Regions from separate parts of the Homo sapiens genome. Here region 1 is linked to region 2. Evidence: fine-mapped QTL for protein levels in blood plasma. A gene starts in region 2. The other region holds a variant in brackets. All regions are shown on one strand. Distances are from middle to middle.

The links. A credible set is the group of variants that fine-mapping cannot tell apart. PIP is the chance, under the fine-mapping model, that this variant and not a neighbour inherited with it causes the effect. Protein levels are from antibody-based Olink assays in UK Biobank. Linkage for the fine-mapping came from a reference panel and not from the study's own genotypes, which makes the PIPs less certain.
Region 1: its variant is the best candidate, but not a certain one, in a credible set for the plasma level of the CD5L protein (UK Biobank, PIP 0.57).

The regions. Positions count from the first base shown.
Region 1 is chr1:157,830,526-157,833,444 of GRCh38, forward strand. CD5L (CD5 molecule like) reads right to left here. Exons shown (of 6, transcript NM_005894.3): 5 at 2,667-2,919; 6 at 386-1,443. The coding sequence ends at 1,439. Among named protein-coding and RNA genes, the nearest start is that of CD5L, 9.8 kb to the right of the region's middle. The variant T/A (reference allele first, on the strand shown) is at 1,263.
Region 2 is chr1:157,840,422-157,843,340 of GRCh38, forward strand. CD5L (CD5 molecule like) reads right to left here and starts at 1,387. Exons shown (of 6, transcript NM_005894.3): 1 at 1,253-1,387. The coding sequence starts at 1,280.

The DNA of each region.
Region 1 (2,919 bases), 9.9 kb before region 2:
TCTCTGTCTTTCCCTGATGATTGAACTGTTTTGACAGAATTAATTGAGTAAGGAGCCAGAGACCAGTGTGGTTCTGGGTTAGAAACATAAACACACTGGTTAGAAGGAAAGCAAAAAAATGTCAGATTAGAAAGGCATGGCATTAGAGTTGGCCTATCAGAAGTGTGTTAGCCTGAAGTCCAGGAGCAGCAGAACTGTCTTTGGGTACACAGGTTGGAGCAGAAATAGACTGGGAGACAGTTGCACACCCAGAGGACAGCTTTTTACACATATGGTTGTAACTGGAAGGTTCTCTTCTACCTAACCCTGTTTAAGAAACTGCCATAGAGAATCTGACACAGCTGCTTCTCTGTGGGCAGAAAGAGCATATCACACAGAGAGGCAATTGTTGAGACTGTGAAATCTGATTTATTAGATAAGTGTAAATGTGTAAATGTAGCCGTATAATAAGTACTCAGCCTAGCCTCAGAATCTAAAGTTGTCAATTTTTACAATCAAGTCTTGATTCTCTTATTTCTGTCTTGCCTCAAGCTTACAGGCCCCAAAGTCTCAGTTGATAAAGTGAAAATGATATTTTTCACTTTCGCTTGGCATAAGACACAACTTTAGCCCTCCCTGATCTCTTTCTGCCTCTTTCTTGACCTTTTCCCAGTAACCAATATATTTTTCTTTGAATAAAGTAAAATGTATTTTTGACATTCCTCTCATTAAATGTCAACCATGTTGGCAGGTTGTATAGGGATGGACAACAAAGATTTTTATTGGGGCAATCAGAGGATGAAACATCATTTTTTACACGTCATGAAAAGGTCTAGGATTATAGGACGCTGCTCTGCTCCTGAAAGAATTGTCTACCTACACTAAGAAATAACAGAATAGGGAGGTGTTGCTATTGTGGTCACCTGAAGCTTGAGGAAAAAAAAAAAAAGTAGTCCAATCAAAAGAATTCTAAACTTTCCCCCAAGTTGCAAGAAATTGTCTACCCACATTTTCTTTCAAATGTTCCTTTCATTGTTTCATTCCTTTAATGTTTGCAGACATAGATTAGTAATAGGACCTAGATTAGTAATGTTTGCAGACATAGACCTTAGTAATGGTCTGCACATCTGACCAAAGTGACAGGTTTGAGGATTCCAGGCAGCTTGAGAAAAGGCAGGAAAGGCCAGAACCAGTGTCAAAGGGTCAGGGTTGAGCACAGGATACATGGAAGCTCATCTTCCCCAGCAAGAGGGAACTCAACAGCTCACATCTACAGGCAGCAA[T/A]GGGGGCTGCTTGTCCCTGAGAGTAAGGCATAAGCCCAGTGTTCAGACTCCTGAGGGGATGAGGGAGTAGTGGCTCAAGCCTGAGCCCCAGAATGAGTATGAGGATAATCAGGGCTCAGGAGAACAAGCAGAGGGCAGGCGGGGCCAGGGGGGCCAGGTCAAGCAACACCAGGATACTATCCTATAAAGAGAAGAGGAAAATGCAGTAAGGATGGGTATAGTCCAGGAAGGAATTATTCAGTTGAAACTCACATTAGCTAAGGGAGAAGACTGGGGCTCAACATAGGAAAAAGAGCTAAGCCATGTACAGATCCCACACTGATGTGAGCCAGGCCAGAACCTTGTGCAGTATCCCAGGGACTTACTCAACTAGCTCCATGTGAGTCACAAACAGTACTGACATCTATCAACATATCTTATCCTCACACAATCACAAAGTCTTTGAGGTAAACCGGACAAGTGTCTTTCTATTTCTACCCATGGAAACACTTAGGTTCTGAGGAGTTAAGTGACTAACATTACACAGCTTCAAAGTAGCAGCAGCCTGGCTCAAACCCTAGCCTCCTGCAGCTGTATTTATTCTTCTCTGGGCACTAACTGCTTCCCACATACCTTGGTCAACTATCAGTTCTTATCTAGTTCCAGAGTTAGTGGTTTAACCAAGTAGCCCCACATTGATTACACAATGGGGCTTCAGACGGGTGGCTTTTTTGAGTCAGCCACGCAGCGGCTGCACTTGCATTTTCTAACCCAAATTGGGAAAGGGCTTCTTCCTTCAATCCTCTGAAGAGTTCTACAGTTCAGGGCTGGTATTGTGGTCTCTCTGATAACTCTCTTATGGGCATTCTCAAAAAGCTCCCTACTGTAGTCCCACTCTCCCAGACTAGTTTAAAATCTAGGAGTGATGACAAATGGAATGAGGTAGAACCCTCTTTGATAGTTTAACTTAGAGTTTCAAGGTTAGGGTCATCCAAGAGAATAACCTTGGGTTGAGAGTAAAGATGGTTTATTATGGTTCTGCTATATGATTTGAAAGCAATTTTAATGCTTTTGAAGGTTGCTTATTTTCTCCGACTCTCACTTTATGTTTACTATGTTTAATATAAAAATGTTGGTGAAATAATTTTCAGAACGCCTCTTGTTTTTACATTCAATACCTGTATGTTCTCACGATCAATACGTATATAGTGTCAGCCCTACCTCTACCCACCAGCCCCAGGAATAAAACCTACCACAGGGCCTGGACTTCCAGCCATATCCCTGGAAGTACAGAGCAGGTGATGACTATGAGCAGCTTCATGGCGCTTGTGAAAATACCCTTTTCCCCAGAGTACACCCCCATCATTTCCTCTTCCTTTATCATCCTCCTTGCCAGCCCTTATGAACTCCATCTGTAGGACTCACCTGAGCAGATGACAGCCACATCTTCCTGGTGGGTGCAGTCGTGAAACCCCCAAAATCTGTGCTGGCACTGCTCCAGGGACTGCTCCTCCCCTGAGCAACGAACATTATCCAGCCAGATGCGGCCAACCCCAGGGCCATAGCATTTCCGGTCTCTGAAGGAGGGAGAGAGGGACTTCCCACAGCCCAGTTGCTTGCATACCACCTGGTCCTCCTTTTCTCCCCAGTTGTCATCACAGACAGAGCCCCATACGCC
Region 2 (2,919 bases):
TTGGACCTCCAGCCTACAGTTTTTCAGGCAGATTCAAGTAGTTCAGTGGTTTATCCTGGAATATTTTCTTTTCTTGGTTTCCAAATAACCTCTCATTACCCTCATTCCCTTAATCTTCAGAATGTGGCCACTCTCAGGCTCAATGAGGCCTTTTCTGCAACTATCCAAAACTCAAGGTTATATTATACATATGGGAATCATTGCATAACCCCAACCCAACATGTGTACATGTGAAGGAAAGTGAGCATGGCAAGCCTGATATGCAGGTGCAAACGTGATATAGCCAGTAAGTGACTTGGAAGCTCTGCAGTAGGGTGGGTAACTGCAGAAGGCACAGGCCAGAAAGGCTTCATGAAGCAGGTGGAAGTGCACATGAGCCTGGAAGACCCAGTAGTATATCCATGAGGGGCAGGACTAGCCGTTGAGTGATGTGGGGGATGCATGGATGTTTAAGATGTGGTCAGTACCTTACATTGAACACAAAAGTGTCCAGTTGAGAGGATTGTGTGGGCTTTGGTGATGTACTAGATCATCAAGACATAAAAGTGGATGTGATTGATTAGCATAGGGATTTACCAGGCATTGTTAGATGCTTTATATTAGTTATCTTATAAAAAAAAATACTCCTAAAAACCTCTGAGGAACATAATATTATCCTCACTTCATAGATGAGAGAGCAAAATTTCAGAGAGGTATGGTAACCTACGAATTCACACCGCTAAGAAATCAAAACGGCAGGATTGAAATCCAGGTCTCCTTGGCTCCACAATCACCAGATTAACTAGGTTAATCTCTAGATTACTCTAAGCAATGAGAAACTGAAGAAAACTAGAAAAACATTATATGAAACACTTTTCAGAGGAAACCAGACAATATGATCAATGAAAGGTGATTGTCTTGCAGTTCTACTTCCTTTCCTGGCTCTACTTGCTGCTGCCCGGTGCCCATTCATTTGTCTTCTTACTAATAGTACATTTAGGAACACTTATGTAAAAAGAGAAATGGGATAAACTATCATGACTCTGTCATTACAAATATAAGAAAATAGAAAAAAATCTGTTAAAGTGAATTACAAATGTGTATGGATTAAGCGGCTTTTTAAGGATTAGAATAGTTACCAAATGTAAAAAGGAGGAAGAAGCTCATCCTTGAAAAACATCTAAATCTGTTCCAGGTTGGCGGGGAGAAAGTTCTCCTAATCAAAGTGCCAGAAAACTCTGAAGCCTAAACCAACAGGTGCAGAGATACTCACCAAGGATCAAGGAGAATAGCAGAGCCATGACCAAGGCAGGTGAAGGTGATGAGCTGAAATTTAAGGCTAGAAGGAGGTCCCCAAGCAGCAATATTTAGTTTTAGCTGCAAGTATGTTAAGAGGAGGGACAAAGACAGGTCCTGAGTGCAGGCAAAGCATTATCAGATGATCAGAAACCAATAGACTCGGGGGGCAGAGCTGACAGAGCTGGACTTGCTGAAATCAGCATGTTCCAGAGGAAAGGAGGTGGCCAGAACTGGCGGAAAAATGCTGAAAACAAAATAGAAACAGGCTATCATGACTTGGTTCTGCTGTAAGTCCAGCTCCGTCTGTCTCTCCTACAGCCCCTTTGCTATGTAAACAGAGGAAACACCTCCCACAAGGAAAGGCAGGTGCCAAAAATATGGCCATCTCTCAGTAGAAGACAAGGCAGTACTTAGTCGCCAAGGATGGTTTGCAAGGGAAATAAGCCAATTTTGATTCCTTTACCCCAGAGGGAAGTGCCTAGAAAATTTGGAAGCCAGAGGCCATGGGATAAATGCAGAGTTGCCCTTGGAGGCATATCCCATAAAACATAATCCAGGGTCATGGTGCCAATCTCCACATACAGGCCTGGCTTTATTGTCTTCAAACCTGCTTTCTCACTGCTAAGCAGAGGGTCCAATATACAGATTTGTTATTTTTCTATGCTTGTGCTGGTGTATGCCCATCTTTGGAAGCTGGATGGAAACAGATCCCTGAGGTGAGGGGCATCATAATCATTGAACTCAAGTTGTCTGTAGGTCTAAGACATGATGGACAGAGATTAAGCAGTAAGACCCTCTCAGGCCCCTCTGCTTTGCTATATTATTAAGTATAGCTATGCTTCATGAGCTATTCTACTCCAGATTGATCAAGCAATCAATTTTGTATGCTGACATAATCTCTGCATTCCAAGCAGGGTAATTGTTCCTCTACAGTAATAATTTTTGCTTCTTTGTAATATTCAGGTAACTCAGCAGAAAGCTTGGTTCATTGTAGGCATTCATTTTTAATCCCACATTTCTTCATTTACTTAGTATTGTATTCAATGAAAAGTTTTTAGCACTCATGAATGCCAGGCAATGTGATGGGTGGAGGCAGTACATGAAGGAACAAGGGATAGTTTTGCACTGTAAAAATATATGGTCTAGTAATTGCAATAACATGTGGAAACCACTGTTAAGAGAGAAAAGTATAACAAACTTTGGAGGCCAGGCGAGGTGGCTCATATCTGTAATCCCAGCACTTTGGGAGGCCGAACTGGGAGGATAGCTTGAGCCCAGGAGTTTGAGGCTGCAGTGAACTATGATCAGGCCACTGAACCTCAGCCTGAGTGACAGAGTGAGATCACATCTCTAAAATAAGAAAAAGAAATGAAACCTTGGAGGAAATGGTTACTATGTTTGGAGCTAATCAGAGAAGACTTCACAGCAATGATGATACTTGAGCAGGGGTTTAGGATGAGTTAAGTGGAGAATCAGAATAGGAAAAGATTTTGCTATGCATATGCAGACAAGTGAAACAGCATTACTTATTCAAGGAACCACAGGTAGTTTGGAATGACTGGATTACAGCCTGCTTAGTGATCAGGGGCCAGGGCTTCTTGATGTTGAAAGGTAAAGACACTAGATGATATGCAAGTAGCA